Homo sapiens: one gene and its partners. The protein of the gene in region 4 purifies or fractionates together with the protein of the main gene of each other region. This does not show direct contact. Each region holds a gene or a part of one and is shown on either strand. Other genes may lie near its edges.

Region 1 (3,500 bases), on a different chromosome or scaffold from region 4:
GTGCTGGGATTACAGCCATGTGCCACAGCACCAGGCCCCACAAGTCCAGTTTTGAGACCCAACATTTGAAAGATCAGTAGAATACTGAATAGCCAGATTGGCTGTCTGTCTGCTGCCTAGAGAAAGTCAGGATTAGAGACAGAGATTTGGGAATCATCAACATGGAGGTGACAAACTGACATCATGGGAGTGATGAGATGAACATGGAGCACGTGTAGGGCAAAAAGGGTAAAGGCAGAATCTCCAAGAACTATATTTAGAAGAGGTAAGGAAGGAACTGAAGAGCAGCAACAGAGGTCAGGGGAATGAGAAGAGACAATTGGATTTGACAATAAGGAAATCACTGGTGCCCATTAAGAAGTTTCAGTTAGGCCGGGCGCCATGGCTCACACCTGTAATCCCAGCACTTCAGAAGGCCAAGGCAGGCAGATCACCTGAGGTCGGGAGTTCGAGACCAGCCTGACCAACATGGAGAAACCCTATCTCTACTAAAAATACAAAATTAGCCGGGCATGGTGGCGCATGCCTGTAATCCCAGCTACTCGGGAGGCTGAGGCAGGAGAATATCTTGAACCCGGGAGACGGAGGTTGCAGTGAGCTGAGATCGTGCCACTGCACTCCAGCCTGGGCAACAAGAGCAAAACTCCATCTCTAAATAAATAAATAAATAAATAATAAATAAAAGAATTTTCAGTTAAATAGTGAGATGATAAGTTGCCAGAGCAAAATAATCAAACAAAGAGGAAACCTTTGAGAAGTTAGGCAATGTTGGGGAGACAAGGGTGGAAACTTATTTTCAGGCTGAGGATAAAAGCCGGCAAGGAAATACAAACAGAAGAAAGGGTGTGAGAGGTGGGGTGGGGAGGATGAAACAGATGATCATGAAAAGAGCTCAAAGAAAAGGGAAGTAACTAACATCAACATGTAGAAGAGGTTGATGTTATGGGTTGAACTGTGTCCCTCCCAAAAAAGCTATGTTTAAGTCCTAACCCGTACCTAAAAATGTGACCTTATTTGGAAATGGGTTTTTGCAACTATGATTAATTAGGTTAAGATTAGGTTAAGATGAGGTCATACTGGAGTAAGATGGGCTCCTAATGACTGGTGTCCTTCTCAGAAGCCAGCTCTATGATGATAGAGACACAGGGAGAACACCATCACAGAAAGAGGGAGAACTGGAATGAGGCATCTTCAAGTCAAGGAACACTGAGGATTGCCAGCAAGCCACCAGAAGCCAGGAAGAGGCAAAGAAGGATTTCCCTACAGGTTTCAGGGGTAGTATAGCCCTGTGGACACCTGATTTTGGAACTCTAGCTTCCAGAACTGTGAAACAATGAATTTTTATTGGTTTGAGACACCCAGTTTGTGCTACAGCATCCCTAGGAAGATGAATACAGTTCATTTCAGAATGCAGGAAGGGAACAGTTTTCAGAGAGAAAGGGAAGAAAAGAAGATAGGTGAAAATGTCATCTTTTTATTTTTATTTTTATTTTTTTTTAGACAGAGTCTTGCTCTGTTGCCCAGGCTCGAGTGTAGTGGCACGATCTTGGCTCACTGCAACCTCGGCCTCCCAGGTTCAAGCAATTCTCATGCCCCAGCCTCCCGAATAGCTGGAATTACAGGCATGCACCACCATGCCCAGCTAATTTTTGTGTTTTTAGTAGAGGTGAGGTTTCACCATGTTGGCCAGCTTGGTCTCGAACTCCTGGCCTCAAGTGATCCACCTGCCTTGGCCTCCCGAAGTGCTAGGATTACAGGCGTGAGCCACCGTAACCAGCCCTATCTTTCTATACTTATGTTCTGTTTTGAAGGATGATGGTTCATTTCTGGCTTGACTCTTCTGGTAAGGATATAACTGAGAATAAGTTCTAAACAGGAATAGGCTTCTGAAGACTGAACAGAAATTTAGACCCAACATTGTGGTCCTGAGCCCAAACTCCATCCAACCTGAAGAAACATTAAGAGGTAAGATAGGCCGGGTACGGTGGCTCACGCCTGTAATCCCAGCACTTTGGGAGGCCAAGGTGGGAGGATCACCTGAGGTCAGGAGTTAAAGACCAGTCTGGCTAACATGGTGAAACTGTCTCTACTAAAAATACAAAAATTAGGCGGGCATGATGGTGGATGCCTGTAATCCCAGCTACTCAGGAGGCTGAGGCCAGAGAATCACTTGAACCTGGGAGGCAGAGATTGCAGTGAGCCGAGATTGCACCATTGCACTCCAGCCTGGGTGACAAAAGAGAAACTCTGTCTCAAAAAATAAAAATAAAAATAAATAAAAAAATAAAAAAAGAGATAAGATAATATCAAGGGTGGCAGGTGGGGCTTCTCTGGAACATTGAGACTGAACCAGAAGGCAAAGGACAAATGACTACATGTACTCCAGCATCTGGTCTTTTACATTCAGAGAGTGGGACAGCCATGGCTACTGCTAGTTTATTTTCCTATGACAAATGCCATATATATACTAGATGAGTTCATTTTCTTTTACTTTAGGTAACGTAAGTACTGAAGAAATTTTTTAAAATTTAACCTTGAAAGATAATGTAGTGATAGATAACACTTCAAAAACTCAAGACATGCATGCCTTACCATGGGCCCTGCCTAGTAACAGCTCAGGTGCAAGGTAGTCTGGGGTTCCTAGAATTCGCCCATCATCAACGGGGGCCACCCCTCTTCTCACACTCTTCGGAGTTCGGTATGGAGTTCCCGACTTGATCTGATTTGGGGTCTGCTAATTCAAAAAGGGTTTAAGAGATAACAAATATCTTAATTCCTTTTACACCGAATAGAAAATGGTGAAACACACAAGCCAAATAACTAGCTCATAGGCTACTAGGCGTAAAGGATGTAGTCAAATTTTTGATAAGTTTTGAAAATGAATGCATAATTAGTTATAATTATGAAAAAGTCCTTTTATCTGGTGAAGTTCAAAAGCTTAGACAACACTGATTATTCCAATAAGATCTAGATAAGAAACAATAAAAAAAATCTGCAAGAAAAATGTTCAGTGAAAAAATCTGCAAGAAGACTGATAGCATGGACTAATACAAGCTTAAGAAGAGCCACTGAGGAAGGCTATGGCTAACAAATGATTAAGACAACACGTAAGACAGAACTACATATAACCTATTGTACTAAATAGCATTTAAAAATTTTTAGGATAATTTGTTATTTCACAACAAGTTTTTTTTTTTGAGATGGAGTTTCGCTCTTGTTGCCCAGGCTGGAGTGCAGTGGTGCGATCTCGGCTCACCACAACCTCCGCCTCCCAGGTTCAAGGAATTTTCCTGCCTCAGCCTCCCAAGTAGCTGGGATTACAGGCATACACCACCATGCCTGGCTAATTTTGTATTTTTAGTAGAGACGGGGTTTCTCCATGTTGGTCAGGCTGGTCTCGATCTCCCGACCTCAGGTGATCCTCCCACCTTGGCCTCCCAAAGATGGTGTGAGCCACCACGCCTGGCATTCACAACAACTTTGTAAGACCAGCAAGACAG
Region 2 (4,061 bases), on a different chromosome or scaffold from region 4:
GGGGAGGGGGAGGGAGAAAAGAGGACTTCCTAGTGTTGACAGAACGGCAAGATGTGGGTTCCCCATCCCCAGTTCAGCCAGAGACCCCTCAAAGTGGAACTTCCTGGGGCAGTCGGGGGTCAGGAGTTGGAGCTTGTCTCTGGGGCAAGACCCCTTCGTTGTACAGATGGAAAAACAAGGGTGGGAGGACACAGCTTGTCCAAGGTCATTCGACCAGCAAACTGCCTAGCTGACCCCAGTGTGCAGAAGCTGGCTCGGGTGACACCCATCATTTCCCCCCACCCCACACAGGGGCCAGCTCTCTCAACTTCATGCCCAAGCCCTCCTACGGTACCCCCACTGTAGGTTCTCTGCCCCTCAAACTCAGCCCAGCTTTCTCCTGCCTGTTCAGGGGACCTTCTGCCCGCTTCGCTGAGGGTCCGTCCCCTTTACTGGGGCTGGCAGCAGGGTCTCCCATCTCCTCTCTCGGGGGCCACTGCAGACTTTTTAGAGAACGCCTTGCCTCCCCCCAACCCCACCCATCCGGGGTTCCCTCTCTCCATCCTCTGCAGTGTCTCCCATACCCCCATTCAGGGTAGCCTTGCTATTCTCCCCAACTCCAGGTCCCCCTTCATCTATTCCGGGGCTGGCCGCGGAGTTTCCTGAGCGCTCTCCAAGTGGGTCCTCTAGATGTTAGGAGAACACTGTACCTCCCCCGGTCAGGGGTCTCCTGTCTCCGTTCTATGGAGCGTCCATGCTCCCATTCAGGACTGCCTTGCTCCCTCCTCTGTTCCGGGGCTGGCTGCACAGTCTCTGCACCCCCTATCCTGAAAGCCTCTCTTAACTATTTGGAAAGCCTCGTGTCCTGTCTCATACAGGGATCCCCTCATCCTAATGACTGCAATCTTCCATTGCTCCATCCCGAGGGCATCCTGCCCCTATTCCCATCAGGTTTCTCCTTGTCCTCTCCCTGTTTCAAGTCCCCTTTCTTATTCCGAACACACTCGCAGGCTCTTCCGACGCGCACCCGGGGGTCCTCACTGGCCCACTCCGGGAGTCCTCTGCCCGCTTCCCCGACCTCGAGGGTCTCCTCTGACGCAGCGTCGATTCCCCTTCCCTCCTCGGTCCCCTGCCCCGCCCCTCTCACTGCGGCGGAGCCGGTCGGCCGGGGGGCCGCAGGGGAGGAGGCGGAGAGGGCGGGGCCCTCCTCCCCACCCTCTCACTGCCAAGGGGTTGGACCCGGCCGCGGCGGCTATAAAAGGGCCGGCGCCCTGGTGCTGCCGCAGTGCCTCCCGCCCCGTCCCGGCCTCGCGCACCTGCTCAGGCCATGATGAGCTTCGGCGGCGCGGACGCGCTGCTGGGCGCCCCGTTCGCGCCGCTGCATGGCGGCGGCAGCCTCCACTACGCGCTAGCCCGAAAGGGTGGCGCAGGCGGGACGCGCTCCGCCGCTGGCTCCTCCAGCGGCTTCCACTCGTGGACACGGACGTCCGTGAGCTCCGTGTCCGCCTCGCCCAGCCGCTTCCGTGGCGCAGGCGCCGCCTCAAGCACCGACTCGCTGGACACGCTGAGCAACGGGCCGGAGGGCTGCATGGTGGCGGTGGCCACCTCACGCAGTGAGAAGGAGCAGCTGCAGGCGCTGAACGACCGCTTCGCCGGGTACATCGACAAGGTGCGGCAGCTGGAGGCGCACAACCGCAGCCTGGAGGGCGAGGCTGCGGCGCTGCGGCAGCAGCAGGCGGGCCGCTCCGCTATGGGCGAGCTGTACGAGCGCGAGGTCCGCGAGATGCGCGGCGCGGTGCTGCGCCTGGGCGCGGCGCGCGGTCAGCTACGCCTGGAGCAGGAGCACCTGCTCGAGGACATCGCGCACGTGCGCCAGCGCCTAGACGACGAGGCCCGGCAGCGAGAGGAGGCCGAGGCGGCGGCCCGCGCGCTGGCGCGCTTCGCGCAGGAGGCCGAGGCGGCGCGCGTGGACCTGCAGAAGAAGGCGCAGGCGCTGCAGGAGGAGTGCGGCTACCTGCGGCGCCACCACCAGGAAGAGGTGGGCGAGCTGCTCGGCCAGATCCAGGGCTCCGGCGCCGCGCAGGCGCAGATGCAGGCCGAGACGCGCGACGCCCTGAAGTGCGACGTGACGTCGGCGCTGCGCGAGATTCGCGCGCAGCTTGAAGGCCACGCGGTGCAGAGCACGCTGCAGTCCGAGGAGTGGTTCCGAGGTACGCAGGCGCGCGGGTGGGGGGAGGGGCGCCCCTGCTGACCCCGCAGCGAACTTTTGGGCTGCGTGACCCAAGGGGGCGCTGCCGGACTGCGCGTGGAGTGGCGCGCTGCTCACCTTCCCTCTGCAAAGTGCATGCCCCTAGTTAAATCGCAGTTTTACTCTGGGTCTCTTGTGGGACGCCCCAACTCTGGGTTGTCCTTCGGTTCCCCCTTTCCAGGTTCTTTACGGCTGTACTTCAACTCTGGGCCCCCTGCTGCTCTCTACCCCAAGCTTAGGCGACCCCACTCTGAGATCCCTCCCCCGTCAAGAAAAAAACAAGTTTCCTCTACAGGAAAAAAGTGGTGCAGGATTCTGGTCTGCAAGCGCTGGAGACTCTTAGCCCTTCTAAGTAGCAAGGCTTCCCCGCCAATGCTGCCATGCCCTCTCCTACACCCCGCAAGAAACTCTATTCCTCTCACCCCTACCAGGCTCCTTCCCACTACCTGCTCAGTGCTTAACGTTCCTACCTTAAATCTTCCACGTGGGGGTGGGTCAGGACCTTTTCGCATCCTTTCTTCCTAGAGGGAACCATTACTACAGTCAGTTGTTGCCTGTGGCGGAGGTGGCTGGTGGGCCCTTTCATGTTTTAATGTCCCCTTTCTCCTTTAGGGAAGCTGGGAGCCTCCCAAGTCTGCCCCTCCCCCAACTCCTTGCAGCCCTGAGTCAGCTAGATTGCGCTGCCCTGAGGCTGTGCCCAGCAGCTGCAGGGTGACCTTGACCAACACTTGCCCTCTCTGGTTTTCATTTCTTTTTGAGTTGAAAGAGGAGGGTAGATCAACTGGGCTGCTTAATCCGGGGAGTTCCATGATGTCTCACGAAACTGTCTGTAAAACTTTGCGTTGTTTTTGAGAGAGAGGGCAGAGGCTTCAGTGATTTTCCAAAAGCATCTGTGATCGACAATAGTTGAGAATCTCCAACCACCTGGATGGTTTCTAAGTCTTTGCCAGCACTAGCAGGGAAAGCTGGGATTTTGATGCATAGCTTTTTCTGTTCCTTTTCCACTCCTCTGCAGAGCAGAACCATCCCCTCCTCCATCTCCGCAGCAAGGCCCCTCCCTGCGCAAACCTCTTTTGGGTTTGCCAGTCGTAGGGGCAGACGTCCCAGGATTGTACTGGCCCACTCAGCTGGCTTCCTTCCTCCCCGCCAAGACTTGTGCCCTGAGTGCCACTATCTGGGGATTCAGGATGTTCACTTTTACGAGCTAAAGACCAGTCTCCAGACCTCCACTGCCTCTGGAAGGTTTCCTGGGAACCACGAGCGGGTTGCTGGCGGGGGCCGGGGTGTGGCTACCAATGCTCAGGGGCAATGCTCAGCTAGGTGGAGAAAGGGACAGGGGTTGGCACCCAGGCCACGGGCTCTGCACTGACCTTGGACTGTGCGCAGAAACCTGTAAGGAAGGGACCATGGCTACAAGGTGACCTGATTGCTCACGGTACCCTCATGCCTCCTAAAGGTCACAAGCTCATTAACTTGTTCAGCCACAAACCTGCAGCCTCCAGCTCAGTGTTAAGCCCCATGGGCCAGGTATCACATCTGAACCACCAGCACTGCCAGGCCCTTGCTAGGGAGCTGGACCAGGCATTAGGACCAGGGTTTCCTCTGCCCTGCAGGGTTTTTGGATCCCACACTGGGGGAGACAGAGCATGATCTTTGGGGATTTGAGTCCCAGCTCTGCCACTCACTAGCTGGGTGGCCTTGGGGAGTAGTCACTTGCCTTTATCTCACAGGACAGAGTGAGTCAAGCATACAGGATGGTGTCTGGCACACGCAGTAGGTCAATCCACATGTGTCACCTTCAAAATCTGGGCATTAGGCCGGGCGTGGTGGCTCA
Region 3 (3,369 bases), on a different chromosome or scaffold from region 4:
AAGTATGGCAAAATTTAATGGTAATTAAAGCTGGTATATAGTGGTTCATACATATTTTCTCTTTCAATGAATACTTAAAGCTTTTTATAATAAATCACCCTTTCAAAAAATGTTCAATACATATTGATATCATTTGGATATCTGTCCCCTTCAAATCTCATGTTGAAATATGGTCCCCGATGTTGGAAGTGGGGACTAGTGGGAGATGTTTAGATCATGGGGGCAGATCCCTCATGAATGGCTTGGTGTCCTCCCTGCAGTAATGAGTTCATGTGAGATCTGGTTATTAAAAAGAGTCTAGAACTTCCTTCTTCCTGCTCTCTTCCTCTCTTTCACCATGTGATATGCTCACTCTTCTTTACTTTCCTCCACAAGTAAAGCATCATGCTTCTTGTACAGCTACAAGCCAATTAAACCCTGAGCCAAATAAACCTCTTATTTTTAATAAATTATCCTGCCTCAGGTACTCCTTTATAGCAATGCAAACAGACTAATACACATATCATTGACAATGTTTATTATCAAGAAACTTTAGGTTTTTTAAAAGAATGCTCGTTTTAGAATACACCAAGAGGACACTCTGTGACAGGACATATACAAACAAGGATAATTAAAATATTAAATACTATCTAAATTAAAAGACCATAATTCAAATTGCTAATTATAATATTTGTGTCGGTAGAAATAACTATAGTTCCCCTTCATGAAATTCACCCCCACGTTCTCATGAAGACTATGACGTCTCACCACAATTTCAGTTATTTAATTTACAATAATCAATGCTGAGTTTTCTGTGCTGAAGCATGCACTGTTACAGAAAGCACAAAATCCTATTTACAGGGATTTTTAGTTTTCTTTAAAATGTATCTCAAGCATCTTTTAAAGTGCGAGCTACAAATAGGTTGTATCCTTAATGAAAAAGGCTTCTTTCTAAAAGAAGTATGAGATAGCTATCCAATACTGCAGGAACAGTTATATAACTAACCGAAGGAACCAGCAGCACTCTGCTAACTCTGTTTTAGTGTAGCAACCTCCTTCTTGGTGTTCTACTACCAGCCAAACATGTACTCCATTGCTTTGGATACAAGACTTTCATCTTTTTTTGGCGTTTGTCTGTCAGAAATAACCTATTAAAAAACACACACAAAAAAAACGGTTAGGTTATTGTTACTTCAGTGTCATAGGCAATTCTAGAATTGCTCATTTAAAAGAGAAACACCAAAATGCATTTATAGCACTAAATTGTAAATTTTTGTATTTTTAGTAGAGACGGGGTTTCACCGTGTTAGCCAGGATGGTCTCGATCTCCTGACCTCGTGATCCGCCCGCCTCGGCCTGCCAAAGTGCTGGGATTACAGGCATGAGCCCCTGCGCCCGGCCTGAATTGTATATTTTTAAAATTAAAATATGGACTTAGAATATCCTTATGCTTTTAAGAATGCCAAAATTTTATTCCTTTGGCAAAGCAAATAACATCTGTTTCTTAAATTAGAAAATTGAATAGCTGGGCGCAGTGGCTCAGGTCTGTAATCCCAGCACTTTGGGAGGCCAAGGTGGGCAGATTACTTGAGGTCAAAAGTTTGAGACCACCCTGGCCAACATGGTCCCATCTCTACTAAAAATACAAAAAATTAGCTGGGCGTGGTGGCACGTGCCTGTAATCTACTCAGGAGGCTGAGGCAGGAGAATCACCTGAACCCAGGAGGCAGAGGTTGCAGTGAGCTGGGATAGCACCACTGTACTCCAGCCTAGGTAACAGAGAGACATTCCGTCTCAAAACAAAAGAAAGAAAAATTGAATAACAAAAGCTGCACTGAATGGGAAATTTAAAATAACAGTAATAGAACCTAAAGAAAAAAACAGTTCTAGAATAATCTCCAAATTTCAGAGGAAGTCAAAAAACTGAACTACCACTATCTGCCCTACTAAAGCACAAGTGTTTCATGTACTGTGTGTTTCAGGACCTGTTTCTGCAGCTGGTTAAGTTCGAACACTTGGCTAGTCAGTAGGAGACAATAATATACTGAATGAGATCATAATACTTCTACCATTCTTCAAAGAACATAATTAACTTCTTTAAGCTTTTTTGAAGTGAGAAATTTTTTTCTGTCTGGAGGTTGGTCAATGTCTTCATTTAAATAACCAAAGCTACTCCAACCTAAGGTTCTGCACTTTGGATACCATCAATTTAGTCATCAATTTAATAAAGTTTTAATGCGCCCTCATGTCAAAGATGCACACAGGATACATTTCGTATGTATGCAAATATAACTTAGAAAAAGCTAAAACAACTTTCAAAAAATTTAAAGGAATGGCAAATAATTTTTTTTTTTTAATTCATGATAACTTTCCAATTGGCCAAGATGTTAACTTTAAAGCAGAAAACTTTTAAAGCGTAAAGGTTTCATCAAGGTAATAGCCTCCACAGGAAACATTTAATGGCATACAAATCAATACAATGAAAAAGTTAAGCATGCTATGCACTCAGCCATTAAAGTACATCTTTTTTTATCCAATCCTTAAAATACCTGATAATCACTAGTAGAGGCTTTGTATGCTGTAGCAAGAGGTCTCATGGTAGAAATCCTAGGAGTACTTCCAGGTTGTGTTGGTGTACCTAGAGTTTTGATTGGTGGTGTAAAGGCTAAAGATGGAGATGATAAAGCACATCTGTCACTGCTTTCCATAACACTCTGGAGAAACAAAGAAATAACTCCTTTGTTTATAAACATAATACATATCATCCAGTATTACATCCTACTTAGAAAATTTAATTAAAAGATAAAGATGAAATACTTTATTTGCTCTAATTAAACTTGCAAATAATTTTAGGCTTGAGAAAATATTTGCTTCTTAGGTAGCATTTGAGATTGAATGCTCAGACAGAAATCTCACTTCAGTGACCTCAAACAATCTCAATACAACTATAGACCACAAAAATAAGAATTTCCTAAAACACTATGAAAAATCAGCAAGGACAAAAAAATTCTTAGGGAAACCTGGATTGGAAAGAATCAAACTCCAGTGCTATTTAGCACTTAGTTACCCCAAATATTCTTCTGGCCTCTGCAAACATTTGTTACAGCACAGTATTATAACTATATAACTACACTGATATAACAGATTTTAAGAATAGGAACCACATCTTGCTTTGTTCATTAATGTGTGTATACTAGCACCAAGCACAATGCCTGGAATGTAGTACAAGTTCACATATACTTAAAGAATGTTCACAATGATTTAACAAGCCACAAAGAACAGTTTAAATTGTACTCTGTACTATTTAATGAGTATATATAGAATAATTTTAAAATAGTTTTAAACAGAAATATTTTGAAACGAAAACCTTTGACATTTAAAAGTTAACTA
Region 4 (3,500 bases):
CTTTCCTGGGGTTTTCAGCCCAAAACTCACTTCACAGAGGGGAGGTACAGACAGGTGTACTCACATGTTGAAATTATAATGCCCAGGGTAATTGGTGTGTAGAACAAACTTCTTCACTTTGTGTGTATTCGCATCAAAGAGGATGTCCTGGGATAGAAAACAAGGGTACTCAAGGAGGGAATGTTACTGAGGCAGGGCAGAGGCCTTTCCAAAGGCATGTCCAACTTGGGACATCCAGTGCACTCCACAGCAAGAATGCCTGCAGGCATCACCTTTCTTCCAGACAACAGTCCAGGGGACAGGCCAAGCAGCTTTTAGACATTTTCTTTCTTCTTTTTTGAGATGGAGTCTCACTCTGTCATGGAGGCTGGAGTGCAGTGGCACTGTGTCAGCTCACTGTAACCTCTGTCTCCTGGGTTCAAGCAATTCTCCTGCCTCAGCCTCCCGAGTAGCTGGGATTACAGGCGCCCACCACCACGCCTGGCTGTTTTTTTTTTAATTTATTTTTATTTTTAGTAGAGACGGGGTTTCACCATGTTGGCCAGCCTGGTCTCAAACTCCTGACCTCAGGTGATCCGCCCACCTCGGCCTCCCAAAGTGCTGGCATTACAGGTGTGAGCCACCGTGCCTGGCCCCATACCTTATCTTTTCTGTCATGTGTGTTACCTCTCAACACACTGTACTATCCATTTTAGCTCTTTGTCCTGCTAAGTGGCTTTCTTCCCTCTGAATATAAGCTCCGTGAGGGCAGGGTTGTCCGTCTGTGTTCTTCACTGCTGTATCCCGAACTCCTAGAGTAGTGCCTGGCACACAGTAGGTACTCAATAAAGATTTACTGAATAAAGGTGCTTTACAAACTTTCAAGGCAGGTTCCTCTTTACAGATGAGGAAACCAAGGCCCCAGGAGGTGCAGTAAGTCACCTAGCGTGGTGCCCAGATGGTAAGCAGCAGAGCCAAGAGAATCCGAGGATGCAGACTCAGGACTTTGGGAGGCCAAGGCAGGAGGATTCCTTGAGTTGAGAATACAGGTGCACACCACCACGCCCGGCTAATTTTTGTAATTTTAGTGGAGATGGGGGTTTCACCATATTGGTCAGGTTGGTCTCGAACTCCTGACCTCAGGTGATCCACCCACCTTGGCCTCCCAAAGTGCTGGGATTACAGGCGTGAGCCACCATGCTGGCCAAGTCACCTGGTTCTTGAGGGGCTGAAGGCCACTTGACTATTCTGAATTCCACAATCCATCAGACCCTCCTGGCTTCCATTACACCCTCTGTGGGAGTCAGCAACCCCAGGAACTGAAGTTCCAGCCTGACCTCTCTCTAGGACTTGGACCTGGATTTGATGCCACCCAGTGAACACTTCCCTCCTATCCCCTACCCTTTCCAGCTTCATATCCATCCAGCTGCTTGGGCCCGTGACCTCAGGGTAACCTCTGACTCTACCCCTGTACCCACAGCCAACTAAGTCCTACTGAGGCCAGTCCATTCTCTCCATCTTCCCTGTCACCTATTGATGGCAGCAATGGCCCATCTGGAGTGGCCGCTGCAAGGATGCCGACTGGAGCAGAGGAAGTGTGGCCGGGACCTCTGTTTTCCCATAGAACTATGCAGAGCCTATGGGAACTGGGAACAGGTGAGAGCCCTGGCCTCTACTAAGTTGGCAGGGCAGGAGCCCATGCTCCTGGGTGTAGCTGCAGCCTCCCAGCTGCAGCTCCAGACCCTGGCATCCCTGCACTCTCAGGGGCCCAGAAGGCCCCTTGCCCCGGCAGGCTTGAAAGTGCCTGCTCCCACTACCTAGCCTCTCCCCACTCCCGGTGCCTGCTCTGGGGAGGGGCAAAGTTGTGGCTGAGCCCAGGCGCTGTCACGACCTGGTTGGGAGTGCACGCACTCAGGGCAGCACTGACACACTAGCCCCCTGCCGCCTCGGCATGAACAGCATGGGCACCATGGATGGCACGCTGATGGTGGTAGGAAGCAGAAGGGCTCCTGGGCAGAAAGGGCTTGGTCTGAGGTGAAACCCCACCTTCAAGCCTGGGATGGCCTGAGGCCTGGGGGCCGGGCTGCCAGCTCTGGGTAGTCTGTGGGTGGAGTGAGAATTTATGGTGCTTTTTCCGGGCCTGCTCATGGACCAATCAGCATGCACTTCCTCCCTTCTGAGCCCATAAAAACCCTGGATTCAGCCAGACTTGGACAGATGTCAATACTACCAACTGTGGGAAGAAGCTACCCACTTCAGGACTCCTTGACTCCTCAGGATGACCTGCCTACAGAAAGAAGCTACCCACTATGGGTCTTCTCTCTGCTGAGAGCTGGATACTCGTCAGGATGACCTGCCTGCAGAAAGAGCTACCCACCATGGGTCTCCTCTGAACTGTTCTGTTGCCCAATAAAGCTCCTCTCCTTTTTGCTCACCCTCCAGCTGTCTGCATACCTCATTCTTCCTGGCCGCAGGACAAGAACTCGGGACCCACCGAATGGTGGGACTGAAAGAGGTGTAACACAAATAAGGCTGAAATGCCCTGCCCCGCTTTCCACATTGTGGGTGACAAGAAGAGAAGAGCTGCAGCCCTTCAGGAAGCCCAGACCTAGGAGCTCCCCGAGCCAGAGCTGTGACACCCTGTTTGGGGCTCTGTGTGGTTCTTGGTGTCCCCAAGCTTCCGGGTGCCACCGCATTCTCCTTGTCCAGACATGGGTGCCCGCAATGGAAGCCGCTTGCGGTACACGTGATCTAGCCTCACCCTTACGTGGAGCTGGTGCCTATGCTGGCGCCTGGAGCTGCCTGCCCCACCACAGCAGTCAGCATGCCTGGCTGGGCACAGTGGCCGGATGCCACATTCACTCGCTCACACACCCCTTGCCACTCCATGCCTGGCTTGCCCTTGGCAGGCATGGGATCCAGGCTGGTAGCATGAGCTAAGCGCAGCCTGCCAGGCTGAGTGAGCTGAATGAGCCCAGCGGGAGCAAGCAAAAATTGGGGCAAAGGTGCCACCGGCCAAAGTAGTTTCCAGCTGGAAAAGCAACACCCTAAGTTTCTTGAGATACTATCATCACTGGCCCTTGAACCAGAGGTCCAGCTGCAACAGCACTGTTCCCTCCTGCCGCCATCCTACTCTCAGGAGTTCATGACCGGACATCAGCTCCCCTACTACTCTTGGCTCCTGTGTTTGGTCTTTCCCACTTAGGCAGACTCAGTCTCTCCTCACTCCCTCTGTGAAATCTACTGTTTGCTACCTCAGGACCTCAGACCGTAGAAGGCTCAAAGGTTACAAGACCCATGGTCCAGGCCAGCCCTGCCCTCTTGAGATGTTTCCTGCTGAAACACTGTTTATACAATAATTTCTCATGTATGCAACTCACCCACCAGCTGGACTGTCCGCACTGGCCAGCTACCAGCTATATCCAGCTCCCTGGGTCCATAGCACAGGGATACAGCAATGCCTCTGGGGTGGTCCTCTAAAAATATACAAGCACACCCCACTGTCTCCAATCCTTTTCAGT

Evidence for each region. Proteins that work in one complex are often made in the same cells at the same time.
Region 1: the proteins of PHAF1 (region 4) and MASTL purify together in Homo sapiens (affinity purification with mass spectrometry; 3 studies listed by BioGRID and IntAct, with this or other methods). This does not show direct contact.
Region 2: the proteins of PHAF1 (region 4) and NEFH purify together in Homo sapiens (affinity purification with mass spectrometry; 3 studies listed by BioGRID and IntAct, with this or other methods). This does not show direct contact.
Region 3: the proteins of PHAF1 (region 4) and NUP35 purify together in Homo sapiens (affinity purification with mass spectrometry; 3 studies listed by BioGRID and IntAct, with this or other methods). This does not show direct contact.

The regions. Positions count from the first base shown.
Region 1 is NC_000010.11:27,172,352-27,175,851, reverse strand, and holds part of MASTL (serine/threonine-protein kinase greatwall), read right to left. Parts: intron 2,735-3,500; coding exon 2,593-2,734; intron 1-2,592. UniProt on the Homo sapiens protein: Serine/threonine kinase that plays a key role in M phase by acting as a regulator of mitosis entry and maintenance.
Region 2 is NC_000022.11:29,478,957-29,483,017, forward strand, and holds the start of NEFH (neurofilament heavy polypeptide), read left to right. Parts: upstream 1-1,261; 5' UTR 1,262-1,306; coding exon 1,307-2,189; intron 2,190-4,061. UniProt on the Homo sapiens protein: Neurofilaments usually contain three intermediate filament proteins: NEFL, NEFM, and NEFH which are involved in the maintenance of neuronal caliber. NEFH has an important function in mature axons that is not subserved by the two smaller NF proteins.
Region 3 is NC_000002.12:183,158,812-183,162,180, reverse strand, and holds the end of NUP35 (nucleoporin NUP35), read right to left. Parts: intron 2,694-3,369; coding exon 2,529-2,693; intron 1,128-2,528; coding exon 1,050-1,127; 3' UTR 501-1,049; downstream 1-500. UniProt on the Homo sapiens protein: Functions as a component of the nuclear pore complex (NPC).
Region 4 is NC_000016.10:67,140,941-67,144,440, reverse strand, and holds part of PHAF1 (phagosome assembly factor 1), read right to left. Parts: intron 148-3,500; coding exon 65-147; intron 1-64. UniProt on the Homo sapiens protein: Plays a regulatory role in autophagic activity. In complex with BCAS3, associates with the autophagosome formation site during both non-selective and selective autophagy.